5 separate regions of the Homo sapiens genome follow, and all the other regions are linked to region 1. Evidence: fine-mapped expression QTL. A gene starts in region 1. Each other region holds a variant in brackets. All regions are shown on one strand. Distances are from middle to middle. Region 1 holds the start of RPS6KA2 (ribosomal protein S6 kinase A2). Region 2 overlaps RPS6KA2 (ribosomal protein S6 kinase A2). Region 3 overlaps RPS6KA2 (ribosomal protein S6 kinase A2). Region 4 holds the start of RAMACL (RNA guanine-7 methyltransferase activating subunit like). Region 5 has its middle 48 kb from the start of RPS6KA2-AS1.

Region 1 (4,000 bases):
TGGAGTGCAGTGGCGCAATCTCGGCTCACTGCAACCTCTGACTCCCTGGTTCAAGCGATTCTCCTGCCTCAGCCTCCTGAGCAGCTGGGATTACAGGCACGCGCCACCATGCCCAGCTAATTTTTGTATATTTAGTAGAGATGGGGTTTCTCCATGTTGGCCAGAATGGTCTCGATCTCCTGACCTCATAATCCGCCCGCCTTAGGCTCCCAAAGGGCTGGCATTACAGGCATGAGCCACTGCGCCCGGCCATTATTGACCATCTTAGTGAGACCTCCAGCACCTAGTACGGGATCTGGCACACAGGAAGCACTAATTGACTACTTGCTCTTAGACTACATGTATTTTCAGCCCATTTGACCTCCTACATCGCTGATGGTTTATGTATGACTTCTAGAAATTTTATTTCTACATGGAAGAAACCTCGTTTCCTATTCCCACCACCCCCCCACCCCCCCCCCCGCTTGTTTCCCACTGTATTCTTTCCGGAGGCACGCCTGCAGCCCAGCCCTCCTTGCAGAACCCTGTGACACCAGAGGCGTGTGTATCCAGAATCAGGCAGATTCCTGAACTCCCACTGGTCAGCCAGTGTCTAGTGCTGCTCTTCATAAACAATGCCTGGAGTGTGCTCACACGTGTACCTCTTCTTGGCAAAGACAGTAAATGGAAGGAGACAAGGAGTTGTCTAATAAACTTGGCATTGAGATGAAACAGGAAACAAAGACATGTATCCGGATAAAGATAAATACTGTTCTGAGTTTCTGATCTTGTCAACTTCAGATTTTTTAAGTGCCTGTGTCCCAGGAAAATGATTTGCCTCACTGGTGTGCTTCATTTCTTTCAATATTAGACTTAAAAGCAAGCCCTCCTCCAGTACTGGATTAACAGTTTTGTTTGAAAGATGTGTTTTACCCTCGGGAACCGGCCATACTGATCCTATCTAGTACTTCCAATTCTGATTTAGGGATGCCATAAGAGAAACTTTTTAAACAAGTAATTCTCTTCTACTTTTTTGTCTATTCCTCAGGTCTCTCAATGGTTACAGAACCCATGTCTGTGTCTAATATCATGGCAGCTGGGACAAAGAAAACCAAGATGAAACATTTGAGATTGTTCCAGCTGAAACAAACCAACCAAAACCCCACAGGTGCCAGCCTTGAGGCAAAGGCGGGACAGTGTCAGGCGAAATCTTTGGGTCCCAGCCTCAGTCTCCCCATCACCATGTCTTTTTCACTTAAACACGTTTCACTGTTTTGTCATCTATAGATTCAACAATGTGATTTGGACACTGGGAATAAGAGAATAAGATTTGATGGTTGAAATAAAACACACCACGAGAGAACCGTCCACAAGGAAACTCTAAGATGCCAAGATGCGGGACAGGTAGAAAGGACAGGGCTTTGGGAGTACTCTGGGTTTTCAGGACGAATCTGTATCAGCCTCGGCGCTGCGAGGATATTGCATCAGGCTCTTTACTCCTGAACGCCGTTTTAGACGCCTAAGCAGATTGTGCTGCTGCCTGTTCTTCCCCGTTCTGTGAATTCTACACTGACTTCAAGTGCACGAATGAGCTACAAGATAAGGTGGAACCTGCCGGCCGGGCACGGCAGACAGCACCTGATCAGCGCCTCGGAGGGCGGAGCTGGGGGGCTTCTCCACTCGGGACTTTGAGGGACCCCCGCGGAGCGCTCCGCGCCACTCGGCGGTCTAGCTGCAGAGAAAGCCCCTCCTCACCCGGGGCTCCCTGTGGCCCACAGGGGACCATCCCACACCCCGTGCAGCCAGCGGCGGAGAAACCAGCTGGAAATGCAGTGGGGGTGGAGTTGCCCCCGCGAGGACCCACGGACCGCCCAATTACTACGGAGTCCCAGCGATAACGTTTGGAGCCGTTTGGTTCGATTTTCGGAACCGGACCAGCTTTCCAGTAACTTGAACTCCCTGACGGGTCTCGGGGTCCACCCAGGGGTGGCGAGGCGGGCTCGGGCGACCACGGCCCGCTCAGTGCCCGGCACCTGCGCGCCCCGAGGGCGGCCGCATTACCTCGAGCCGGCTCAGGCTGGAGCTCTTGGAGCGCGACTTCCTGCGCAGGTACACAGAGAAGAACCTGCGCACGGCGAACTTCTTCATGCTCAGGTCCATCGCCCCGCGCCCAGCCCGGAGCAGCCGCAGGGCCGGGGGACGCGCATCCCCGGCATCCCAGGCGCGGGGCTCAGGTCCGCGGGCGGGCACGCGTGGCCAGGGAGCCCGGCACGGCGGCCATGGGCGCGGGGCGTGGGGCGCGAGCTGCGGTCACAAAGGGCAGGCCGCGCCGGCCACCGCGGCCGGGGCCACAATCGCTCCCTCCGCCTCCTTCTCCGCCTCCCCTGCGAGTACCAGCGCCGGCCACGCGCCACGCCTACACCACGCCCACCACCACTACCACCAATCAGCGCCCGCCGCTCCGCGCCCCGGCACGCACACCTCCTCCTCCTCCGCCCCGCCCCGCCACTACGGCCAATCAGCGCTCACCACCCCTCCCGTTCCCACCCACCACCAGCACTGCCAATGAGAGCCCACCGCCCCGCCCGGGAGAGCCCCGCCTCTGCCGATACCTCCAATCATCAGCGCCGCCCTGTGGTTCCAGGTGCCCATCCCTCCTCCTCTTTCTACTCCTTCCTACAAGAACCAGCTCCGTGCAGCCCCGCCCCCACGCGGTTCCGCCCACGGCCCCGCCCACAGCACTGCCCGCCAATCAGTGCCCGCAGCCGCCGCATACCTAATGAGCCTCGGCCCGGGACAGCTCCCGGCCCGGGCGAGTTGTGCAGCTGCTCCGGAGCCGCGCAGTCGCGGGCGTTCCTGTCACGCAACTTCGGCCCGGCTGCTCTTTCTTCCAGCTTGGGGCCGTCATTATGTTTTCCTTCCTTAAAACATCCCTATGCACACTTTGTCATCATGTTTTTCTCTGCCGAACCAAACTTTAATTGTTGATCAGCAAACGCAGCCAAAACCTCAGCGGCACAGCGAGCGAGGGACCGCCGCCTGCCAGCGGGCCCTGCAGCTCGGCCAGGAGCCGCCCTCCGCGGAACCGGCGCCTTCCCTCCGCCGGAGCGGACAAAGGCGCCCGAGGGCGGGGGCTCAGGCAGCCCTCGGGGCGCCTCCCTCCCGCGGCTGCAGAACAAAGACGCATCCGCCCTCCGCAGCCGGTCCCGCTCTAGGAAACGTCTACACAGATGGCTTATCAGGGCCCGCGCTGGGAATACCCGGGCGGGGTGACCTGGGTCTAGGGCAAGGCCCTCAGACCCGCTGCTGGCGGCAGCGCCGCTCGGGATCCGCCTTAAAGGGAAACACTTTTTTCTTTTTTTTCCTAGAAATGCTCACCAAGGGCTGCAGCAGGGCCGAGAATGCGGGCTCACGACCCCGTGCAGCCTGCTCTGTTTTCCTCTTGTGCACGTGTTGAGTTTGTATTTAAAAACAGGGAGAAACCGAGCCCATTGACATAGCACCATCACCACCTGCAAAGAGCAGAAACGAGTGCGGTGGTGAGTTGACAAGTCTTGCTTGCTCTTTTGCAGTGCGAACTGCAAAATCCTCGCGTTGTTTTGCTCCCTGGACTAGTCAGATGTTGCGTTAATACTTGTGTAGTCTATTTTGGCTAAGGTGGGTAGAGAGGTCAGAATGTCCTTAAATAAGAGCTTTAAAGTCATGCTGCATCCGGGCTGAGGTGAGGTCAGATAGGCTCTCTGGGTTTCCTGGAGACCCGCGTTGAGCGGTGCTGCTCCGGAGTGGAAGCCGGGAGTTTAGCACCACGACTCTGGCGCTGCCCCTTCCTTGCTTGGTGAACTTGGGTGCCGTTGCACGTTGTTCCCACGACTCATCTCTAAGAGGAAAATACGAGTGAAACCTGTCTCACCTCCCTTACTGGATACCAAGAGGCTTATGCAAGATCACGGATGTGGGAGTGCTTTGTGAATTTAAATAGTGCAATTGATTTTCATATTATGTATTAAAGGATCTATAATGA
Region 2 (6,238 bases), 160 kb before region 1:
CCCTCTGCTGGTTAATTCCACTCGCCCTCTTTCAGGCATCATTTCTCTCTCTTTCTGCTGGCCACTTTCACTGTGCACAAACCTCTTCCATCGGTGGATGATGGCGTTATGGGACAGCAGACTCCTCAGTCTGTGAGCAGCTGGAGGACGGGGCTCTGCGTTCCAGCTGTGACGTCATGGACATGGACACTTTGCTGGTGCACCACCAGGGTGAGCACCAAGCGTTATTTATCAAATGCATGAATTAATGCAAAAGTGGCATTTCTGAGCTCTTCTGCCACTCACGGGCTGTGTGGGTTCAGGGCGCTGGGCAGAACAAGAGCCTGCCATTCCTCTAGCACTGCTGCCTGCCTTCCTCTGGGAAGTACAGACATGAAGGAAACACGCCTGGTTCTGATCAATCACAAGGACCTCTCTCAAAACGAAAACAAGGCCAAAATAAAATCAAATTAAGTGCTAAGAGCAACAAAAGGAACTTCTCAGCTCTGATTCTAGTCTGATTCCTTTGAAATCACGCAGAAATGCCACCTTCTTGGGTTGTGTTTGCTTTCCAGCCACAGGGAGACCAGAGCACCCTGAGCAGAGGCGCTGTGTAGAGAAGGCTCTTATTGCCACAGGAAAAAGGCGGCTTCTGCTCAGAGCTCGCCGGACCTCAGCATTCTGGAATGCACATTAATCTAATGTGTCATAGTTTTCCAAATCCATCGTATTGTTAAAATTCCAGGCATCTCACAAGGTTGTCTTAGCAAGTGCGTAAGCCCTTCTGGGCCATGCATACTTTGGAGTGGCTCCACTCTTGGCTGAGTGCTCTGTGTTGCACTGTGTCACCTGGGGGTTCGGTGTGAAGAGACTTCTCTTTCCTACCAGCTGCAGCCCTCAGGGTCTCCCATCCCAGGATGCTGCCCTGCCCACCTGCAGCTCCCCCTCCCAGCCCAGCAATCCTGGTTCTCCATTCTCCCAGGCATGGTCTCTGGAGGAAGGACTAGAGTGTGAGAGTGAGGAAATGGAGGGGGCAAGTCTCCCTCGACAGCTGTGACTCCTGTCTTGAGAGTCTCACTCATTCATTCACTGATTCATTCACTGACTTACTGACTCATTCACTCACTTATTCACTGATTCACTGACTCATTCACTTATTCATTTGCTCGTTCACTCACTCCCTCATTCACTCACTCCCTCACTCACTCATTCACTAACTCACTCACTGACTCCCTTACTCATTCACTCACTCACTCATTCACTCACTCCCTCATTCACTCATTCCTTCACTCACTCCCTCACTTGTTGACTCACTCATTAACTCACTCCCTTACTCATTCATGCACTCCCTCACTCATTAACTCACTCACTCCTTTACTCATTCATTCACTCATTCATTCACTTCCTCACTCATTCACTCACTCATTGACTCACTGACTCATTCACTCACTCCCTCACTCATTCACTCTCTAACTCACTCCCTCATTCACTCACTCCCTCACTCATTAACTCATTCATTCACTCACTCATTAACTCACTCACTCACTCCCTTACTCATTCACTCACTCACTCATTCATTCACTCCCTCACTCATTCACTCCCTCCTTCCCTCACTCATCCATTCACTCACTCAGTAGGGATTCATAAAGTGCCTCCTTTGAGCCAGGCCCTGTTTTAGAGCTGTGGGATACACCTCTAAGCCACAGATTCCTGATCTTGCAGCTTACATTCTAGTGGCAGGAGACAGAAAATAATAATATACATCAGAAACACATGGTATTTTGAGGCGAGTCAGAAAGTGATAAGGGATATGAAAACAGAGCAAGGCCGGGGGCTGGGGTGCTGGGAGAGGAGCTGCAGTTTGGAAGAGCCGCAGGACAGGTCTCATAAGATGACACTGAATGGCAGACTGGAAGGAGGAGACCAGTGAGCCCTTGGGAGACTTGGGCAGGAGGGGCCCTGGAAGCCAGACCAGCTGGAGCCAGTGCTTGGGGGGAACCTGTTCCATGGAGGCATGGGAAGGAGGCTCCGTGAGGATGGGAGGGGTGAGGTGTGGCTGTCCTGACCACTTTCGTGTGCTTCTCCATCTGTCCCCTGCTGCATCCTCCTTGTCAGCACAGTGTCCTCCTGTGACATGTGCAGACCCATCTGTCCACCGCCTTTCTCTGCCAAGTCATCACAAGACCCACGGGTGCAGGACTTTGTTCCATCTACGGCTCTATCCCCAGCCCTGGAAAGTGCCTGAGACTGGGACGCCCAGCAGAAAGGGCTGGATAAATGGAGAAGCAGATCATACGGGGAGAAGCTGTGTGGTCCCACCTTAACCACTGGCAGGCAGGGGAGGGGATGCAACATGCTGTGACCCCCTGAGGGGCAGGCATCTGGGTTCCAGGCACAGTGCTGTGCTAACCATCCACAGGCTGACACCCAGGTCCATTCTTCATGAAACAGGCTTGCCTGAGATCTAAACGCCGTGTAAGGTGAAGTCTCCATAGAAAATACATTCCAACGCAGAGTCGAATGACAGTGACCTTAGGTGCCCATCTGTGAGGTGAGCACAGCCTGAGCTTCTGATAAGCCTAAATTTTCAGGGAAGCTAAGTAAGAGACTCCAAAGGGAGGCCTTGGTTTTCATTTCTTGGAGGTCCTGGTTGGGAGGCACAGATGTCCTGAAACTTTACACTCTTTTCTCTAATCTTACTTTCGAAAAGAAGTCTAATCTTACGAAAGTTCTTTAGTCAGAACTGTAAAACTAGGTTTTAAAAAGTTATCACTCTTCCCCAGTTTGAGTGCTTTGCTGGGGCTCAGGCTGAAGGAAGAGGAGAGCTGGCTGGTTTTATCCAGCACTGGTGTTACACATTCCCAGAGGAGAGGTCTGGGGCTGCAGGTGGGGCCCACCTCTTAATGAAATGCGTGGAGGCCCCGGACTCCA[T/C]GAGGACATAAAGAAGACAGAGGCCGGGCGCGGTGGCTCACGCCTGTAATCCCAGCACTTTGGGAGGCCAAGGTGGGTGGATCATGAGGTCAGGAGATCGAGATCATCCTGGCTAACACGGTGAAACCCTGTCTCTACTAAAAATATAAAAAAAATTAGCCGGGCGTGGTGGGGGCGCCTGTAATCCCAGCTATTCGGGAGGCTGAGGCAGGAGAATGGCGTGAATCTGGCAGGTGGAGCTTGCAGTGAGCCGAGATCGCGCCACTGCACTCCAGCCTGGGCGACAGAGCGAGACTAAAAAAAAAAAAAAAAAGAAGACAGAGAGGAAAGCGAAAGCAGATAATAAACTCTATACTGTAGAGGGCATTTAAATCTTAAAAAGTGTTCCATTAAAATCTTTTGAGGTTAATTTGTTAGGTCAGGAAAAGAAAATCCCAACATAGCTGTTTTTGTGTTAACCTAAAGGAAAGAGCTGAAAGCAACTGATAGGAAAGGAGGTATCGCCTTCCTCAGATGGAAGGAACAGCCTCCGAGTTTTAGCCGCGAGAACTCCCTGTGTGGGGGACGCGTCAGACGCTGACTGCTTCACCATTCGGAGTTGGCGTCTTGGCAGAAATAGGCAATTGACACTTGTAGCTTGGTGAAAAGTGAGATACGAGAACTTCTCAGACAATGTCCAGCCTGGCCCAGAGAACTGGAAATGGAGGCTTTACCAATAACTCCACTAACAGAAGCTCCAGTTTATTCCAACAACTCGGCACTGTTGTTTTTTTTTTTTTTTTTTAAATGTGACTTCCACGTGGGCATCAGCTTGACTAACGATGGAAAATGCAGTATCGAATCTGGGCCTGCCCATAGCCCTAGCACTAAAGGGTCCTGGTTGAGCAGCTTGTCATGACTTTTGTCTGTTCAGCCCTTGAGGTTAGAAGACAGTCACTCCTGGAGCAATCGGGAATATGCAGGGCTCGGAGAGGCCGGGGAGTGGGTGCAGGGAGGACAGAAGCCTCGACTCTGATGGGCAGAGGAGAGTAGAAGGAGGAAAGCTGAGGGGACTTCAGGCCTCAAGCTGGAGGGAGGGGCACTCACGTGTCTGTGCCTCCCAAGTTGCCAGCCCGCTCAGCAGGGTCCTGGGGGCTCCCTGCCTGCAGGTGGCTTGTCTACATTCACCTCCGACCTACTTGTGACCCGGACACTGAGGACCCTCTGCACCAAGCCGTATGTTCCCTCCACCCACTTCTGTGTCACGCGTGTGCAGGTGGGGACTGTGGCATGCAACTTACGTTCCAGTCTATGGTCACAAAGAAGGGATGGCGCTTAATTTCCTCCACTCCGTCAATGCCAGCACCTGTCAACAACACAGAAATGATCATCAGAACAAATCCAAGATGGGGTTCTCTGACAGTTTCCAATGCAGCAGTGTGGAGGGTGGGGATGTGCAGAGGTGGGGCCGTGGGAAGGAGCCCAGAGGCTGCTCACTCCTGCCCAAGGCACCTGCGCACCTGCCGATGCCCCCAGCTCAGAAAGCCACGACTCAGCCCCGAGGGCTTGTGAGGCAGAGGTGGCCTGGGGTTGGAGTGAGCAAAAGAGGTGGTCAAGAGAAGCATGGGACAGGCCAGCCAGGTGCTGCCTGCTGCATGTGACGGCTGCCTAGCACCCCACTGTCACCCCCAGGAGCTTGAGGTGCCTGTGAGTGTGAGCACCAGGTGGACCTCCCAGGAGGCCGGAGGGGAAGGTGCAGAGCAGAGTTCCTGGCAAAGCTGCTGCAGTTAACCCGGGAGGGAAGGATTCCAGGAAATGAAGAGGAGTTGACAGGACTGAGTCCCGGAGGAAGCCAGAGCCCAGCCTCCTGCCCACACCTGGCCACCCCTGAGCCTGCTCAGACAGGTGACTGTGTTTACCTGGAGGCTGCTTACAAATATCTCTGCTTTGTTCTGTTATTTCTACCTAACCTCCTCCCTTACTTTGTTGCGTACAATCCTAAGGCCCTGGGGCAGAAAGGAAGGAGGGAGGAGTAGGCGGAGCGCTGGGGGCCCTTTCAGGCAGCATGATTCCCTAACGGTGGATACATGTCCACTCATCTGCCAGAAATCGCCACTGTCCCCCCAGAACGAGCCCAGTGTGGACAAGGCCTTTAGTCAGTAGCTCAGCTCACCGACTGCAGAAGCGTGCCCATTCACGGAGGCACTACTGTTCGGGAAAGCGGTGGGGCAGGGAGTGAGGGGCCGTGGAATCTTGCTGCAGTTTCTGTTCAGTTTTTCTGTAAACTTAAAACTGTTCTGAACACAAAGTCTATTAATTAAAAACAAAAGGCCCTAAAGCTCTAGGACTCTGTGTTTTCTCCAGGATGGGACGGCCACAGAGGAGCCCATCCTCCCGGGTCACGAATCCGAGAAGAGGCGGGCTTGGCTGGAAGGGGCAGTGGCGGCGGTGGCTGGGGAATTCCTGCCAGCTCCGGGCCCAGGGCTGGGGAGGGTCTGATCCCTGGGGCCCGGCTCCCCTGTTCTGCAAGCTGTGTTCCTTTCCGCTGCCAACTCCTAACGGCTGTGCTCCAAATCAGAGCCTCCTGTGCCATGTATGCCCCTTCGTGGAGCCCCCCTCATGTCCAGCTCTCACTCCTGGAAGAGCGGGGCTGCCCGGGGATGCTGTGGTCAGCACAGGTGTGGCCCGGCCTGTCCGGCTGGAAGCTGGCCTGGAGTGGCGCAGGTCACCGGGAGTCACAGCAGATGGTGCCATCGTTGGCTGGAACTGCCCGTGTCCTGACCCCTCCCACCCCTCCATTCCGCACTCTGGGCAGTGATGTGGAGGAGGCTCGGGGGCTGTGGTGGCCTCAGAAAGCGCCTCTAGGTGGTCAACGGCTCAGAGACAGTCCCCTTACCCTGGAAGCTTGGCCAGGGCCATGGTGCTAGGAACGAACCCACATACTAAATGCCCCTGAAGGCACTCTCACAGCACTCTCAGCTTTGTGTTATTCACACTTTGACGTGAAAGTCCATCTAGAAGGAATTAGAGGAAGGGCACACATTCAGGAGTTTCTCCTTCCATGAGGACGCAGAATCATAGGACAGACATAGCACACGGACATCTCAGTCATCCGATGCACAATTGCTGTTCCCATTTTACAGACGAGGACACTGAGGCTGACACAGGTTGGGTAGCTTGTTCAAAATCAGACCAGAGGTTATGAGTTACAGGTACTGGGTTTGGAGGCACATGTCTGAAAAGCAGCTGAGGTGCCCCACCTTCTGAAGTGTCTTTCCCGAGGACTCCCTGCTGAGGCCCCTCCGGGTCCCCAGTCTAGCTCCCTTGTTCTCCTCTAAACCCTGAGCCC
Region 3 (6,238 bases), 45 kb before region 1:
GCACTTTGCTGTTCACTTTTGCAAAGCAGAGATGAGTGCTTTGGCCTTAGGGCTGTGAAGTTTAACAGTGTTAAATAATGCAGAAGAAAGCAAGCATCCCACAGATACTACTGATGACAATAACACAGCTCTTTCTTTAACAAATGATGGCTTAAAAACTAATCCTGGCCAGCATGCTCCAATCTAGAGAGCGAGGTTTTGTAAACCTGATCCTCAGGTGACAGCAGTGTCTGGACCAGCAGGGCTGCTCACAGGAGTCACCGTGCCAGGATCACTGTGCTGGAGCAGGCCTACTCAATCAGAGTGTCTGGGCTCAGCTCCGAGGTCTTCCACCATGCGCCTCGTGCATTTTCTACACAGAGAAAAGTGTCAATTGGCCCAGGATATTGATGGGATCTGTGCAGAGATATGTGAGGGACAGGAACGTCACAGCTTAGAAACGCAGTTTATGAGATTCTGCATTTAAAACCCACCTTGACTCAACTGCACTCAGAGAGACCAAAAAGCCTCTGCATTCTATATTTCACATTTAGTGAGAAGGCCCAGGTTAGAAGGAAACAGTAAGTCTGATGTCGAGCAGCATGGAAAACGGAGGATCAGTGGATCATGAAAAACAAGCCGGAATGAGAAGGCGTGTCAGTCAAGACAGCCCCGAGCCACCGCCTGGCCGTATCTGCCAAAGGGGTTTGTGATCTTAGACAAGTATCCGTTTATGCTGTTTAGAAAACAATCTATAGTTGTATTCTATTTTCTGCATTCAGCTTTTTTTGAGTGCCATTATGATAAAATGTCATGTTATTATAAAATTTGAAGTTATAATAAAATCCAGGTTGAGATGGGCCCAACAGGTGCGACCTGCATTCTGTACAGAATGCTACAGAATTCTTGGCTGCTCGGGCCCTTCCTGGAGTGGTGCTGGCCTGTCGCCCACAGGCCATCTGGGGAGGAAGAAATGTATGCAAGAATGTCATGCTTCCAGAGGTTTCGGTGGTGGCAATTCTACTGCAATTATTAAAGATACATTGTTACACTGGCTAGTTACAAGTGGGTTATATTTAAACAAAATTTGGAGAAAAATGTTAAATAAAAAATGTTTCCAAGCACAAAATTGTTTTTGGAGAAGATGAACATCCTACGTCACCATGAAACTGGTGTATTCAAGATTCAGGCCATTAGGAAACGCCATGTGTCATGTTACAAGAAGGAAGCAGCCTGTGAAAAGTGTCAACCGCTCCTTTGGCAGAAGAAGACCAGTGTTGTGGTATTTAATGTCGCTAAATTTCACGATTTGACATTTTCTACATTTTCCTTTTTCTAAGATCTAAAGATCACATTATTGAAATTTTATCTCTAAAGAATGGACCTCTTAAATAGTCCTCTTTTATGATTATGCAAATAACTCACATACTGTTTTGAGAAGAAAAAAAAGACAACTAAATAATCTGAGGATAGTTCCTCTGTTATCCCAGCCAAAAAGAATAGGGAATGCATAGTGACAACACCTTCCTAACTGCGACCTTTAGAATCACGGCACTTCATCAAGTTCAGCATTGAACATGCTTAAAGGGCCGTCTTTCTATGACTCAGCCCGGAGGTTCTGGAGTTGTTGCCCCCATCACAGTGGGCTTTGGGCCCCCGGGCCTGCCCCTTGGTTCTAATGATCAGGGAGGTCCTCCCTTATGTGCCCACTGAACTTCCAGTCTCAGGCTGACTCACACAGGACACACTGTGAAAAGCTGGAGAGGAAAGGGCCCAAGTGACACAGTCACCCGATGGCTCTCAGGGACCTGAGGGCCGGCAAAGGTAGAACAGGTGTCCACTAAGCCTGGAGCGTAGCCTCAAACCCACTGTGCCAACACACCCTGACTTCAGCCATAGTCCCGTGCATATCCAAAGGTCTGAAGGAAACTTCAGAGGTGTCCAGTCTTTTGGCTTCCCTGGGCCACCCTGGAAGAAGCAGCATTGTCTTGGGCCACACATAAAATCCGCTAACACTCATGATAGCTGATGAGCTTTAAGAAAAGAAAGGTGAGTGCATAAACCTCATAATGTTTTAAGAAAGTTTACAAATTTGTGTTGGGCGACATTCAAAGCCCCTGGGCCACGGGTTGGACAAGCTTGCTCTGGATTGTACCCAGTCCATGCCTGTCATTGTATGTGATCAAACTAAGCAAAAAGACCTGATTTTCAGTCTACCCCACCCCCAACCCCTGACCCCCTCAGTGGGTCCCCAGTGAGGACGGATGAGACCAGAAGTCCCAATGAGCCCAGTGTGCCTTGTGTCCCTGGGGGAACCAGACCCGATTGGACACGGACTGGATTTTCATGCGTAGGGGGCGGAGGAAAGGGAGGACATTAAATCTTTAAGTGGTTAAAGACACAAAACCCACAGGAATGATTTCTAATGAACAGAAAAAGGGCTGAGGAATTTTTCTTTTCTTTTCTTTTCTTTTTTTGAGACGAAGTCTCATTCTGTTGCCCAGGCTGGAATGCAGTGGCGCAATCTCGGCTCACTGCAACCTCTGCCTCCCAGGTTCAAGCGATTCTCCTGCCTCAGCTTCCCAAGTAGCTGGGACTACAGACACACCACCACGCCCAGCTAATTTTTGTAATTTTTAGTAGATAGGGGTTTTGCCAGGCTGGTCTCGAACTCCTGACCTCAGATGATCTGCCCGCCTCGGCCTCCCAAAGGGCTGGGTTTATAGGCTTGAGCCACTGTGTCTGGCCAGGGCTGAGGAATTTAATATTGCACATACATATTGTCTATGATTCTTTATGTGAAAATCCACTCAAACATCCACTCTGCTTTTGACAGCATCAGCCTTTCTCATGACAAAACCTTCCCCTCAGGGCCTATGCGGAGAATGCCGACAGCACCTGGGCTCCAGCGCCTTCTGGGGCCTAGGCCTCTCTACACCCACCTGGATGCGCAGGTCAAAGTGCTTTGCTTCTCAGGGAGGGAACTGACGCCCCGCTCAGCCCTTCCTTCTCCTACGCTCCACTGTCCTGAGGGACTTGATGTCCAAGTGCTCAGGTGGGTTCGGCATTTTCCACAAACCCAAGGACCAGGCATGGCAGCCTGTTGAGGCCACCGAGAGGCCGGCTTCGAGTATGCGGGGCAGTGGGTGGGTATTTCGCTGTGTCCATTTTCCTTATATTCACTTTCTATTTGAATGACAGAGAATTATACCCAGAAACAGACTAGT[T/C]TAGATTTGAAAGCCCTTGGAAATCACCACTTCAAATGAAGACCCACCCTGGGCGAGATGGGGAGGGAACACCCGCTGGGCAGGAGGGCACGGGGAGAGGGCCGGATGGGGTGGAATGCCCACTGGGCAGGTGGGCTGGGCAGGAGGGCACAGGAAGAGGGTGAGATGGGGTGGGACGCCCACTCGGCAGGTGGGCTGGGCAGGAGGGCACGGGGAGAGGGCGGGATGGGGTGGAATGCCCACTGGGCAGGTGGGCTGGGCAGGAGGGCACAGGGAGAGGGTGAGATAGGGTGGGACGCCCACTGGGCAGGTGGGCTGGGCAGGAGGGCACAGGGAGAGGTGAGATGGGGTGGGACGTCCACTGGGCAGGTGGGCTGGGCAGGAGGGCCCAGGGAGAGATGAGATGGGGTGGGACGCCCACTGGGCAGGTGGGCTGGGCAGGAGGGCCCAGGGAGAGGTGAGATGGGGTGGGACGCCCACTGGGCAGGTGGGCTGGGCAGGAGGGCACAGGGAGAGGTGAGATGGGGTGAGATGCCCATGGGCAGGTGGGGTGAGCAGGAGGGCACAGAGAGGGTGAGCACAGTGGCCACTGAAAGCCGCTGAGCCGTCCATGGAGATCTGAACTGTTGAGCTGGCTTCCGGTGGCATGCACTTTTTGAAATAAAGCCTTTTCATTTGACCATGAATGTGTTCAACAAAACCAAACTTCTTGGGAGAGTGAACATGTGTTAAATGACCATATACTAACCCATCACGCTGACTGTTCACAGCTGCTCACCACCATGACCTCATTAGTTGGGCGGAGATGAATATGCAGCCATTTTACGATCACAAATTACATTCCACAACTGAAATGTAGCATGGAGCTCTGAGAGATTTTTCATAAATCACAAGTTTTATAGTATGCAATGAATTTTTATCAAATTCATAACATAGATGCATACATCTTATTTTGGAAAATGAAATGGCATTTATTTTCTCCACAGAAAAAGTGCCAAAAAATGGGCAGTAATAAAATTTCCATTATTCAAGAGGTTAGATATGATTTCCATCTTGACTGAAAAAGCCAGAACGCTTTGAAAGAACTTCTTTTAGGGGTTCTTATGTAAGAATTGCTATTATGCATCCAATGTGCAGAGGAAGAAAAAACAAAACACAAAAAAACCTCTTGAATAATAAAAGCTATGGAATAAAGCAGTATAATAGGTTGGTTTTAAAACTTAAATATTTTTGGTAACTTGATGTGGATAATAATTTGAAGATTTAAGAAAAATAACTCACTATATTTTTTACCTTCCACATTTTCTCCTACTTTAAAATTCACTCACTTTGTCTTGACTTGGTCGTTGACTGCTTTTATTCATAATTCACTTGGGATAAACAGACTTGAAGCATATACACGATAATTATTTCAATATCAATTCTAATAAAGACAAAGCAGTTTGGTAAGTTTTACTCGCATTCGCATACTTTTCAAGGTATCATATTACACATAATTAGATCCTAGAAACAACCAAATTGCTACTTGTGAGCTAAAAGTGCTGAATTCTTGCTTGTTTAGAAAGCACACTGCCTCATCCAAGGCCCTGATGTCCAGCTCACCCTAGGGTCTAGCACTCTGCACCCTGTAGGACTTGCACCAGAGATCACGGCCTTCTTGGGGCAAACCACAGCACTGTCGCTGTGATCTGCGGAAACGGCTCCCTCCACTTTGCCTCCTGTGAGTCTTGGTGATTAAATTGTTGAGCAACTTCAAAGCACAGAGGCGAAAACCAATGGGAAGAAGCAGCTGGTGGTGGAGAGCTTAAGCATCCTGCGCACCTTCTCTGAGCTCTGGCCAGGCCGTGCTGAAACACTGCGGAAGTCATGTCTACACCAGGGTTCCCCACCCACTGTCCAGAGGTGACAAAGGAGAGACGCTCCTGATAAATGTCTTCACGTGACAGTTTGTCATTAAAAACCGAAGCTAAGCCCACTGAATTCCTGAGTGCTTATTAAAGCGCCAATGGCCAAAAGAGACAAGACTCACAAGACTGTGGCTTTCTCCTCTGGATGGCAGAAGACGTATCTCACTTGGCTTGTTTCAGTCCAGGAGGCATCACGCCAAAGGAAGTACTATGCCACAGGAAGAAATGTGCAAACTGGCTGGTTCTCACGTTTTTCTACAGCATTTTACTTCCATGGGTTCTATCTAATGGTAACATAGGTTAGAGCAAAACACAGTCAACACAGTTGCTTTAGCTCAAGTAATTTCATCACCTTACCCCATAGTGATAGTGACCCTCTAAGGGTCAACAAAAAGGCGCATCTTAAAATGTATTTTATAGCTCTGGTAGGCCAGGTGTGCAACGAAACAAGGTTAATAAATTTAAAATGCCTTGGTGTGTTTTGCTCCTTTCTTAGTCTGCCTGAGCTGCCATAACAAAGTACTATGGATTGGGTGGCTTACAAAACAGACATTTATTTCCCATAGTTCTGGAAGCTGGAAGTCCAAGACCAAGGTGCCAGCCATTTGGTCCTGGTGAGGGCCCAATTCCTGGCTCACAGGCAGCTGCTTCTTGCAGCGCCCTTTCGTGGTGGAGCAAGAGCTCTGGTCTCTCTTCCTCTTCCTCTGAGGACACTACTCCCATCGAATCAGGGCCCCAGGCTTAGGACCTCACTTCACCTTCATTACTTCCTTACAGGCCCTTTCTCCACATAGAATCACACTGGGGGTTGGAGCTTCCAAATGTGAACATGGAGGGATACAATTGAGTCCATTAACATTCCATCCCTTATTTGTAGTAACAGCATGACCATACTCAGTGATGACAGGGACACTCTAAATGTCAACATTTACATCTTACAACACTTTTTATAGCTCTATTAGGCCAGTTATGTCATGACATCACAATTAATAAATGAAAAATGCCTGGGCATTCTGGGGATACTCAGCAGCTCTCCAGATGTTAAGGAAACTCAGTATACCCCAATCTGGTCATTTCTATCTGTGATTGTGATCTTTTGCACTTTATTTTATAGTAATTTTAACT
Region 4 (6,238 bases), 37 kb before region 1:
TCTTTGGTTCCCACCAGCTCTGCTATTCCATTCCTCAACAATTGGAGGAGACTCAGGAGGGCGTTTCAGGTATTCCTGATACTCCTTGTCATTTTCTGTGAATCTACTAGCAAACATCTCTTCAAAATTTGGAACAGCTTCGGCAGTGTCAGTCATTCTGAAAATCCCAAAGGTTTGAGGCAGCTGTATTGCTTAATGTTTAGGTTGTTTAAATCCGCCAAGGGCTATGTCTATCCAGCTCAGGCCGAACCCCGCCGGCGAGACACTGAGAAGCCCAGGAGAGGTGGCCTCTGGTCCACTACACCGTGGAACTCCAGACCACTCCAGTTCTCCAATGTAACCGAGCGCCTTCCTCTCCAAACAAGTCTTTTAATAAGGCCCATGAACTAGTCCATATATATACCAGAGGAGGAAAGAAAAAGAATGACCACAGTTTATTCTGAAGACATGACAAAGGTAACACACATCAGTTATACACAAAGTCAAATTTCAGCATTACCTCCAGGGCAGAGGGAGCCAACAGCTTTCAGAAATCTCTGCTCCTGCCATAGACTGGGGCTCCCCTCAGCTGCCTCCCAGTGGGGACTACATTACCCAGCCCTCCTTGCAGGCAGGTGTGGTCATGTGACTAGCCCTGGCCAATGGAGTGTGTCTGGATGGTGTACCTTAAAGAAGCAGGTGCTTCTTTCATAGTCTCTTTCCCCCCACAGCTAACTGCAGGCCCTTAGGGCTGGTGGAGCTACAAAGAAGAAGCCTGGGTCCCCCAAATCCCCATGTGGAAGCAAAGTGGCCAGTCATCAGGAACCCTGACATTAGACTAACACATAAGGAAGAAATAATTTTTCTTTTATGAACTCAGGGAAATATTTTCCTGAAACACAAGAGTGCACAGTCCAGAGACCCTGGGTCAGAGCCCTACAGGCCCAAGAAAGGCTTGGTTGGACACTGGCATGGGACAGAGGGAGGCAAGAAAGATGAGATAAGCACAGACTAGAGATTCGTATCTGCTTTTCATAAGTACAAGAGAAATGTACCATCAAAATCAGTTCTAATCACCGTCACTCTAATTGTGTGGCATCAGACAAGCTCCTCACCCGTCCTTGGCCTCAGTTCCCTCCTATGTAGAATGAGGGGGTCCTACCTGGATTAGTGGTTGTGAGAAATAAATGAACCCACGCATGTAAAACTCCCAGAACAGTACCTGGCATAGAGTGGGTTCTCAAAAATAACACTTTAGTTCTTCCTGAATATCTCATGCAGTGATATAACATCTTTCTTGAACGAGTCTGCCCTTTTTGAAGTCTGCCATTGGAAAAAAAAAAGCAAACCAGCATAAAATAAATATTATATATATATATACACACACAAAAATGTAAAATATATAAGTGGATTCAGAAGTAGAAGATGAAGGGCCCACGTCTCTGAAAAGCCACAGCTGAAGGCGCTGAAACTAGCCGTCTGGCCTCACTAGCACAGTGGGTAGAGTCTGACTTCCTGCTGGCTGCTGTCATTCATGGCAGGACTTTCCGGGACTGTGCGCTCTCTGCCCTGTGGGGAAGAACCCCGAGGAGGTGAGAGTGAGACCCTGCGCCCTCCTCACTCACTCAGGTTCCAGCCACAACAGTGAATTTATTTTGTTTTTTATCTGTTTGGCTTATCACATCTGAATGCAAAATATGCAGCATAAAATGAATGAAAATTGAGACCCCAGTGATGGTTAGAGAATTCTCGTATCATGAACTAAAAGTGAACTTCTTTCCAAGAAACAGGGGACCTTCGTTTTGCTCCCCAATGTACACACTGTGCTGGGGTCTGAAGTAAACAAGGCAGGAGCTCAGCTCCATCCCAGGGCCCTCACCCTCCACTGCTCCCTGAGTGTGGTTTAAAAAGAGGAACAAGGACCTCCACAAAGT[CA/C]GCTTCACATTCAGCAGGTGGACAGCAGAATCAAATCTCTGCAAAGAAACAGCCTATGAGTGTGTGCAGCTGCTCACAGGCCTAAATTATAATTTCCAGGTGGGGCCAGCGAGTTGCTGCAGGGGTGGCTTTCTGCAGAAAAAATGAGGGGTGGCTGAACTGGATTCCACAGGCCCTAGCCACACAGAGCATCATGCACCTGAACTGGGGGTCTTAGGGGACTCCTCTTGGGCACACGACATCCCTTTGCTGCCTCCTTTCCACAGGGACCCTGCGCTGGGAACTTGCAGCACGTCGCTGAGACACCAGAATCTGGGGAAATTCTGCCTGTCCCCAACCTCTCGCTCTGGCTGATTTTGCCATCTAATTTGTAGCCTTGCATGTACATAATTCCTATTTGTACAGAAAAACAATCAAAGGTGGAACTAGATCGTCTGATCTCAACTCCAGAATGTGGGCTTTATTGCTGCCCTGTAACCTGGGGCTGCTACTCTGCCCTGATGATGGACACAGGGTTCCCGGAAGCTCAGGGCCCGAAGAGAGTCCAGCTGGGCAGTCGCACATGACAGACAGGGTGCGGCAGCCAATGGCCCTCCGTGCTCACTGTCAACCCGGCCAGCAGAGGCCATGCATAGGTGGCCAGGTGCGACTACCTGTGTTCCAGCAAGTAGATGGAAAAGGAACACTGTCGCTTTCTCAGGGCTGACTTCCAAATTGGGGGGAGGAGGAGTGGGTGGTTAAGGGCATCTAGGAGGTGGGTGGCAAGGGAGTGCCCCCGCAGAAAAGGAGGAAGAAGCTCTAAGCCCTTGATGAGTCAGAGCTGAAATTAGTAACATTGGGGTTGCCACTACTCTTTCAAAATTTAAGTCTTTTATAAAAGAGCCCCAGGCTTTCTGGAAACAGGTGGTCAGATTGAAATAAAAATGATGGCTATGGGGCCAGTCTCCTCCTACCACCAGCAAAAGCCAAAAGTGAATTTATGTTTCACAGCCAGTGTGGAGAAAGCGTCTGCTCAACAGCTCAACAGGAAACCACGGTGCATTCCAGGGCCCCTCCTGGGGTTCCTTTGCTCATTTTCACATAAAGAAAGAAAAAGGATGGGAAGTATTAATCTGCAGCACTAAGTATGCACTTTTGTGAGCACTTGTTCTAAATTATTGCCATTACATATCCACACTGGAATTGAAAAATAACCCAGCTCAATTCATCGGCCAAAGACACCCAGCCTCCATGGTCAGAGTATCTTCTATGCCCGACAGGAGGGACTGTACCCTTAGAATTGAAATCAGTTGAAATCAGTCATGCTTCATGGAAGGCTGCATAAACAATGTCATTCTACCCTTAGGTATTTTACCCTCATTAAGTCGCAGAAAATAAGAGCCTAAAGGGAAACTGGGAAATTGAACTTTCAGCTTTTACTATCAGCTCCAATAGAGACTGTTGGTAGAAATGGGCGCACATCACCTGTGTCTCCAGCATCTCTGCATGAAAAACAGAGCGTGGTCTATCAGTCTTACAGAAGACTCTCACCCAGTGCTTTGGCCCAAACAAATCAGATTTGTTGGAAACATTTTCAAAATTTCTAACTCCTAGATTTGATATACAACATAAACTAAACTGTGGCATGAACAGAATGGAGAGAGACTTGGGATCTTACCGGGAGACAAGATCATACCCACCAACCCAACAAATGAGGCCACAGGCATGCAAGTGAGATACACAGAAAACAAGAACAGGAAGGGCCAGAGGAAGAAGGGCCCCTGGGCAGCTTGATTGGGGTGCTCAGAGGAGGAGGCAAGGGAACTGGGGGGAATACAGACGGTGCTGTGGAGAGGGCATTCAAGGTGAAATAAAACAGCTCAAGCAAAGACACAGGGGCTGGAATTGGCAAGCATCATCGGGATGATAAAGACTAAATCTATTTGATTAGAGCAGCCTTCTGGTTTTGCTTCTTTTGTTGTTTTGCTTATACTTTTTGCTTAAAACTTGGACATAGTGGGAAATAGAATCAGAACAGTAAATTACTAGTTCCTACATCAGTAGGCTTTGAGGAGCAAGAACCTACTAAACGCTGATAAGAATCAGTCATTAGGGTCTGGCAGATACAGCATCCACGTAAGATTAAGTTCACAGATTCCCAGTGTGAACTCCGTGTCAGACTCTGCTTTAGGAGGAGACAGATCCTATTTCAGGGCTGGGCACACCTAAAGATGGAGCCTGGCGAGGAGCATGACTTAGGGTGAGAACCATGCCATCAGCCTGCCCCAGAAGAATCCAGACATGCAGCAGCACAATTGAAATCCTCATTGAGGACTTCAGGTCGTTGCACTGTACTATACAGGGGATTCGTGTGGAATGAGTTGATTGCTGCTGCTCTTGCCCCACAACACACACACGCACGTGCATAACTGAAAGCACGTCTATGTTAATGGGCTTTCCTGCAGTAACCTTCTTACTATCTCTACTCATTTCCCGTTGCATCATGTATACCTTAAACATACACAATAAAACTCATTTTAAAAAATTAAAAAAAAAACCTCATTGAGGCAGTGAGTATAATCAACACTAACGGATAAGTGATGGCCCCAGGCAAAGAGCATAAATAAGGGAACGGAAGAGATCATCAAAGACACGACTTAGAGTAAGGCCTTGCTGGATTTAAAAACAGATTAAAACCAACCCACACAAACCTTTGCAAGTAAAATGGATCTGCCTGCCATGTCACAGTCAATGAAGAGTCAAATCTGAGCATTATTTAATTACAAGCATCACAAAAGCAGAAAAACAGGTTGTCTCGGTCTGACTTTAGAATTCTCTTCTACATATTAAATGCCAGAAGATGCCAGAGAGCAATGTTCACTGAGCATCAGGTACAAAAAGGTTGCAGCCCAGGCATTTCACAGTCGCCCAGGCACTCTTCATAGATGCAGGTGATGGAAAAGGCCAGCGTGCAAGGACTCAGCAAACACACCCTCCACGGGAGGCCCTGGGGGCACCTCGGAAAGATGTTACCATCATTCAACGCGACCAACAGTGCCACACTGGAGTGCCTTCTGGGATGAGCAGAATGCCTTTAGACCAGTCACAGTGTGGCTGCTTCCGTCCAAATGGCGCTCGGCATGGGCATGGTTTGATGTGTGCCCCCCACCCCTGAAAAAAGACGTGTTGCATGTCTTGACTTGGAAACATGTGACTTGACTTGGAAACAGGATCACTGCAAATGTGATTAGTTAAAACGAGATCACAGAGGAGGCGAGTGGCCCTAATCCAAGATGACTGGATGACCACCTAATCCAAGATGACTTCTAAAAAGGCCACTGGAAAGCAGACACACACCAAGAAGGCGGCCCTGAGATGATGGAGGCAGCCAAGGAGTGCCTGGGGCCACCAGAAACCAGAAGGGGCAAGGAAGGATCCTCCCAGGGCGTTGGAGAGAGCTTGGTCTTGCCCAGGTATAGTCTCGGAAATCCACCCTCCAGGACTGTGAGAGCATAAACTCCTGTCGGTTAATCCCACCTGTTCGAGGTAGTTTCTTACAGTAGCCCCAGAAAACTAACCCAGCATTTAGTTTTTACTAAAATCTCATCAGTGTACCCACCATGGCCACCTTCAAGCCTGTGTGTATTACACACTGAGTTCCACAAGACAGAAGGCTGTGGACAACAGCCCCCAAACCCAAGCCGGCCCACACTGATGGCACTGGCTGGGCCCACTGTACCTGCAGAAGACAGAAGCATCTGCAATACAGAAATCACTCAGAGCTTAGACAATGAGAAAATGATGGACGTTCTGTTTAAAAAATAATCACCAGCCAGGGCGCAGCAGTGAACCAGAAAGTTCTCAGAAGTCCTGAAAAGTGGGCAAGAGATGGGCCTGGCTTGTAGAGAAAGTGACTTCACCAAATACCAGCAGAAAGAGAAAGACTTCTCGAGGGAACTAGAGAGTCACATATTATAAATAGTAGCGAGGGTCATGGAGAAATCAACAGGATAATGAATTCTCTGCTCTATGTGGAGTCCTGGCCTGCTGAGAGCTTCTGATGGGTGCACCTCAGATTAAAACCAGGGAACTCACCTGCGGGGAAGAGGGCCCCGGTGTGGTGCTGTGAGGGGCTGACAAGCCCGGCCTGTCCTCTGGATTTACAGGGGACTACTTATTCACCCAATCTATGGGCTAGGCAGAATCTGTGAATCTCACTTTACATAAGGGAACTAGGAGGTGAGAACTTACTAGTTATTCTTATAACTAATAAGTGAGGAGCTGGAATGTGAACCCAGAAGCCCAGAGTCAGTGTTGGTGACCATTCTGCTGTAATGCCTGATAC
Region 5 (6,238 bases), 230 kb after region 1:
ATTTTCAATAACACCTGGATCTGGTTTTATAAAGTTGACCTAACAAGAAAATGGTCCTATTGTTATCAATAAACATAACCCTGAAATCTAAGCGCTTTAAAAATCCATGCAACAGGGCAGGTGTGGTGGCTTATGCCTGTAGTCACAGCACTTTGGGAGGCCAAGGCGAGAGGATCGTTTGAGTTCAGGGGCTCGAGACCAGCCTAGGCAATATAGTGAGACCCTGTGTCTACAAAACAAAAACTAATTAAATTCATGCAACAAATTCTAATATTTTTCAAAGGCTGTTCTGTGAAATAAAAACTCACCTAAAAATCATCTATGTATCTAAGAACATGTAGGGAACAAAGACGATAAAACAGCACAGAGACCCGGGAGCCTGGGGCTGCCTGGCCCTGCACAGACTTCGCCTCTGTGCCGTGGAAGTGGACAGGTGGGGCCTCTCCTGGCCCAAAGCCATTGAAGCTGGCTCTCCTCCTCCATCAGGACAGCCTCAGCCCTCCCAACCGCCCAGCACAGCAGCTCAGAGGAGGCTGGCCGAGCGCAGCCGCCGCCACGTCCTATCCCACCAAAGATCCATGCTCAGCATCGTGGCCACCTAAGTCTCACGAGTGTGGCTGTGAGGTTCGTTTGAGTACACTTGGCCCAACATCCAGATCAGGTTCCCAGGCAACAAGACAGCAGGTTGCCTCTAGACCCTCAACAAGTCCGCCCAGTTAGGCCTGCAGGGCAGTCCCCAGGGGAGCCACGAGCTTGTTTCCTGCACGGAGCTGTCGCCTCATGGAGGCGCTCTCAGCCCCGGTGCTCCTTTGCCTCAGTACACATGGCCTGCAGGAGAGAGGCAGGATGGGGAGAGGCCAGAGCCTCAGGGAGCCAGGGCCTCGCCTGCTCACAGGAGTCATTTTGCTTCTAGATTTTTCTTCCACGACTGTGATGTCGCTATACTGAGCCCCTTCAAGTAATCTCTTAAAGACGTATTGCCTGACAGAATCTGCTGGGTTTTGTGGTTGTTGTTCAGAATATGAAGGATGCCTGCCTCTGATGCGTCAGATGAAATTAGACCAAGAATCCACCCATCCCGTGAATTTATGACACAAACTCCCCCACATCACTACTGCCTTCTTGAGGGAGGAGGCCGTTCCCTCAGCAATGGTGAATAAAGGTGTATTGCAGTAACACCCAAGCTCAAGAACAGACATCTTGTCTTACACCCAAGCTTCACACGGGACCTTCACCAGAACTCACCTTCTTGGAAGCTGCACAGAACCGTAACGTGAGGAATCACATGCCTAGATATCCTATGTGAGCTATCCCAAATGCCTTCTACACTTCAAAAACTATGTGAGAAGTCTACTCCACGAAACTCATATCAGTGAAAGTACTCACAAGTTGGAGTGATCACAGCACCTCCTGCGCTCCTCCAGGGCAAGCCTCGCTCACCTTTTTATTCTTTTCCATGAACCATAATGCCTGGCCTACAGATTATCAATAAATATTCTTGGCTGAATAAATGAATGGGAAAACTGCTGCTGACTTGAATGATTTTTTTCCTAAATAAGATGACTTTTTATCATATATGTTCAGACTGGCAAGAGGCATGAAACGTTTATCAGTTTAGTTGCCACAAAATTTCTTTCTTTTTCAAAATAACAACAGATGTTGGCAAGGATGCAGAGAAAGGGAACGCTTATACACTGTTGGTGGGAATGTAAATCAGCACAACCTCTACAAAAGACATATGAAAACTTTTCAGAAAACTAAAAACAGAACTACCATTTGATCCATAATCCCACTACTAGGTATCTACCCTAAGAAAAAGAAATTATTATATAAAAAAGACACCTTCACTTATCTGTTTATCACAGTACAATTCACAATAGCATAGCCATGGAATCAACATAAGTGTCCAACATCGAAGAATTCAATCAAGAAAATGTGATACAGATACATCATGGAATACTATTCAGCCATAAAAAAGAATGAAATCATGCCTTTAGCAGCAACGTGGTTGGAACCGGAGGCCATTATCCTAAGTGAAGTAACTCAGAAATGCCGCATGTTCTCACTTATAAGTGGGACTAAAGAATGAGCACACGTGAACATAGAGGGGGAAGAGTAAACACTGGGCTACAAAAGGTGGGAGCGTGGGAGTGGGGGCGAGGATGAAAAATCACATGTTGGGTTCTGTGGTCACTGTTCTGGTAATGGCTATGCTAGAAGTCCAGAATTCATGACTACACAATATATCCACATAACGAAACTGCATTTATACTCCCTAAATCTATTAAAAGACGAAGAAGACGAAGAAGACAAAGATGAAGATGAAGAAGAAGGAAAAGAAGAAAAAGGAGAAGGAGGAGGAGGAAGAGGAGGAGGAAGAAGAAGAGGAAGAAGAGGAAGAAGAAGAGGAAGAAGAAGAGGAAGAGGAAGAGGAAGAAGAAGAAGAGGAAGAAGAAGAGGAAGAAGAAGAAGAATAAGAAGGGTTTTGTGATTGTGGTTCAGAATATGGCTCTTTTATTTGAGCCATAAATCCCTAACCTAGAGAAGACCTTGCAAATAACCCCTCTGGAGGCCAAGAAGGATGTCGAAAGCCTGTCTCTAACAAAAGTTACACAACATCATAGAGTATTCAAATGACATTCATCTGCAGCTAGACTAAAAAACTCCATGTTGGGTTTTCAGCATCATCTATCAGAAACATCAAGTAAACAAGTAATTTTCTCCAGTATTTTCTCATTCTTCCCACAAATACTGCAAATGTACCTAAATATCAAGATTATAGTTCTGCAAAATACTCCTAAAATCTGTTTGGAACTCTATTCCTTCATTTATTAAGATGCAAAGATATACTGGTTTTCTATTATCCAGATACAGTAAGCATCAGGAAACAGTAATAATTTCCTCCATCTGATATTCCGTTATCAAAAACAACTTTTAAAGAGGTTGGTTACTTTCATTACATTCTATGATAGATTCACATCTAGATTTCCACCAAAAATGTAGAGAACACGACAACTTGAGACTAGGAGCTCTTAAAAAATAAACACTGTTGATGAATTAAAGGATTTTCTGTTAGTTGTATACATGCACTTTGGGGCATAACATGTGCTATGGTCTAAATGTTTGTATTTCTCCAAAACTCATATGTTAAAATCCTAGCAATAAAGGTGATGGTGTTAGGAGGTGAGAACTGTGGGAGGTGATTAGGTCTTGAGGGTGGACTTCTCATGAATGGGATTAGTGTCCTTATCAAACAGACCCCAGAGAGCTCCCTTGCCCCTTCCACCACGTGAGGACAAGGGTAAAGACGGCTGGCCATGAACCAGAAAGTGTGCCTTCACCAGCCATCAAACCTGCCATGCCTTAATTGTGGACTTCCCAGCCTCCAGAACTGCGAGCAATATCTTTCTGTTGTGTAGAAGCCTCCCAGTGTGGCATTCTGCTATGG[C/T]AGCCTGAATGCAGCAGGACATGGTGTTATGGAATCTTGTTGCTTCAACTGAACCTAGCAGAATGAAGAGTCTGCTCCACCCATCCTGGCTCAGGGCCTTGTCGTCAGCCTCCTGAAGCCAACTACTAAGTCATCACATAAGTCTGTCTGCAGTAAACACACTGAAAGTTCCCTGGAAATCACAGTTCCTACAAAAGCCTAGGCAAGTATTCTGAAAAATGACAGCCAGTCATTTCTCTGAGACCTTTGGCCTTATGAATTTGCTGGGAAGGTACATCTTCCTTTCCTACCCCTACCACTTTGCAAGTATCAGATTGAGCATCATATTTTCAGGAGAGTCACTGCCTCATGCCTGCCTACCTTTTGATCATCATGGAACTGGCAAAAGCAGCGCTATCTACTTTTCCAGGGGATGCAAAGGTACAAGGCCAGGCCAAGCATAGTGTTCAAGAACGCAGCTGGATCGCTGCGCAGCTAGAAGAGAGCTGGACTCTAGACTCCCAGATTAGTGAAAATGCACAGAACCGAAAGGCAGCTGGATAAACGTAAGGCAGCTGAATGCCATTTTTCTTTATTTAACCAGTGGGCTATGTCATCGGATCATAAGATCCAGCGACACTTGGCTTAAATGTTGCATTGGTGTGCATAGGTTTAGATGGTAGTGAAACGTAGCGTTCAGCATCTGAGCAGACCATTTTCTAAAACCAGTAATGTTCATCGATCCAGCCCTTCCAGTCTGCAATATCTGCCAGCTATTTTAAAAGTCAACAGAGTTGCAAATTTTCTAACTGTTCTGGCTCCAGGTGGCATGTGGCTGAGCGACTCAGTCTTCTTAATGGCCAAGTCAATGGCCCACGGCTCCGGCTGCCTCTGAGAGCGTTTGCTTTACCAGTGGTGGAAGTGTGGCTGCGTAACTACAATGCCTTGACTACAGCCTCAACTCAGCCTTCCAATTTACCTCTTTGCTGGCCAGTGTCTCCCTGATGGATACACTTATCGTTACCAAAATCTCCCCTGAGAACACCAGTGTTGCCGAGATACTCTCACTTTATTAAAGTCTAAGTCTGTTTTCTGCTGCCTGGATCAGGCCCATGCTCCTGCACAGCATGAAAATGAAGAAATGCACAGCCTGCAGCAGCAAGAGCTCTTTCTTCTCTTCCGTTTGATGACCACCTCGGGCTGATACCCTGTCTCTCTTTCCTTCTTTCCCAGTCAACCCCTACAGGCCCTGGGACTCCTCTCCGTCCACTGGAAAGGCAACTCCCCACGGATGGAATCCGCTCTTCTCCCCAGCTCTGCTGAGCACCTCATCAGACATTTTAAGCAGCTGTGTCACATGACTTCCAGTACAGGGAGCCCCACACCAGGCTTCCATGCCAGCTGGTTACTCCCAGGCCTCCTTGACTGGTACTAATGCACCATGACCCTCACAAGTGCCCATGCCAGGAGACCATGAACTTTACCTCGATGGACAGCCTTCCGTCCTATGCTCCAGCTATTCTTTTTGAGGGAGATTACCGAATATAATAAGCACATGATATGTACATATGCATATATACACGTTTGTGCATGTGTATGTATAGAGACACATATGTCACTAAAATAACTGCTCACAGATATTTAATTTCAAACTTCCATTTCCCCCTTCACCACCTTCTGGGCCCAATCTCCCCAAACAAAGCAGAGTGTAATAAAACGTGTATAGTTACTTCTTCTGCAGTGTCTTCTGTGGTGGGCTCCACATCCAGGTTGAGATCCTCCTCTGTGGTCTGATAACAAAGATAGATGTTAAAGATGGTTAGCATTGCCATGTGTTTGTAGGTGGCCTCATACAGGTTACCAATATGAAAAAGTACTAACTAAATATCCCGCATGATTTCTGTAGGACATGGAAACCATATCACCGTCCCTTCCCACCTGAATTTATGTTTAACTGTGTGATGCTTCATGTCCGAGATGGATCCTTTATACAACAGGTGGTAAGTAAGGCAAGGAGTGTTCACACTAAACCCTAACTCAAACGACTAAATCAATGAAGCGAGTGTGACTTACGGTACAATCTAAAGGACGACAAGGTGATTCTTGCCAGTGGAGAAAGCGTGGATTTTCATGAAGCTAAAATACGAACGGAGCTGATGTGGAAGCACAGAGCAGCGGTGAAGGCATGTGTGACCACTCCCATGAGAACGGAACCAAATCACAGTCCCAAGTGAGTGCTGGGAGAATGGATTCTAGCAGAGAAATGAGGCCCAGCCCATAAAACGTAAAGCAAGTGTTTCTGTGGTTGGCACAAGGTTTAAGTGGAACCATCTGGGTCTGAGTCTTTGGTTTCTACTTAACAACTTGGAGCCACCTGCTTAACCTGGGCCTCGGAGACATGGCAGTGCTTCTGCCTAGAGATGTGGGGAGAGCTCCACGGAAGAACACCAGCCAGCCATCAGCACCGGCTGCCATGCAGCAGACACGGGAGAGCTCCACGGAAGAACACCAGCCAGCCATCAGCACCGGCTGCCATGCAGCAGACACGGGAGAGCTCCACGGAAGAACACCAGCCAGCCATCAGCACCAGCTGCCATGCAGCAGACACGCAAAGTGAACTGCTGTCATTATTACTATTTCTAGTTTCATCTTCTCACCTAGTAGCCAGGAGATAATCATCTCTATCCAAGCTTGACTATGAATCTTCAGGGAATCATGTTTGATCTGCATTGTTTAAAAACGGAGCTTTCTCTTTCTCTATCTAATGTATTATGACATCCCAGAGAGAAAAATCATGCTTATTCCTCCAAG

The links. PIP is the estimated chance that this variant, and not a neighbour inherited with it, causes the effect. A credible set is the group of variants that fine-mapping cannot tell apart.
Region 2: its variant is the best candidate, but not a certain one, in a credible set for the expression of RPS6KA2 in monocytes after interferon gamma (Fairfax 2014, PIP 0.85).
Region 3: its variant is the best candidate, but not a certain one, in a credible set for the expression of RPS6KA2 in whole blood (TOPMed, PIP 0.77).
Region 4: its variant is the best candidate, but not a certain one, in a credible set for the expression of RPS6KA2 in blood mononuclear cells (TOPMed, PIP 0.72).
Region 5: its variant is the best candidate, but not a certain one, in a credible set for the expression of RPS6KA2 in whole blood (INTERVAL, PIP 0.79).

The regions. Positions count from the first base shown.
Region 1 is chr6:166,624,881-166,628,880 of GRCh38, forward strand. It overlaps RPS6KA2 (ribosomal protein S6 kinase A2), which reads right to left and starts at 2,371. Exons shown (of 21, transcript NM_021135.6): 1 at 2,041-2,371. The coding sequence starts at 2,139. RefSeq lists silencers at 2,241-2,590, 2,651-2,820, 3,071-3,130.
Region 2 is chr6:166,465,651-166,471,888 of GRCh38, forward strand. It overlaps RPS6KA2 (ribosomal protein S6 kinase A2), which reads right to left. Exons shown (of 21, transcript NM_021135.6): 11 at 4,191-4,255. Among named protein-coding and RNA genes, the nearest start is that of RPS6KA2-IT1, 3.4 kb to the left of the region's middle. RefSeq lists enhancers at 3,873-4,776, 4,777-5,680. The variant T/C (reference allele first, on the strand shown) is at 2,911.
Region 3 is chr6:166,578,464-166,584,701 of GRCh38, forward strand. The region is part of intron 1 of RPS6KA2 (ribosomal protein S6 kinase A2); the gene reads right to left. It overlaps RAMACL (RNA guanine-7 methyltransferase activating subunit like), which reads right to left. Exons shown (of 1, transcript NM_001395999.1): 1 at 4,546-6,238. Among named protein-coding and RNA genes, the nearest start is that of RAMACL, 5.1 kb to the right of the region's middle. RefSeq lists enhancers at 1,299-1,799, 1,800-2,300, 2,381-3,201. The variant T/C (reference allele first, on the strand shown) is at 3,207.
Region 4 is chr6:166,586,322-166,592,559 of GRCh38, forward strand. All of the region lies in intron 1 of RPS6KA2 (ribosomal protein S6 kinase A2), which reads right to left. RAMACL (RNA guanine-7 methyltransferase activating subunit like) reads right to left here and starts at 357. Exons shown (of 1, transcript NM_001395999.1): 1 at 1-357. The coding sequence starts at 156. RefSeq lists a silencer at 560-699 and enhancers at 2,248-2,297, 2,878-3,137. The variant CA/C (reference allele first, on the strand shown) is at 1,914.
Region 5 is chr6:166,853,043-166,859,280 of GRCh38, forward strand. It overlaps a transcript of RPS6KA2 not described here. Among named protein-coding and RNA genes, the nearest start is that of RPS6KA2-AS1, 48 kb to the right of the region's middle. RefSeq lists an enhancer at 81-1,059. The variant C/T (reference allele first, on the strand shown) is at 3,449.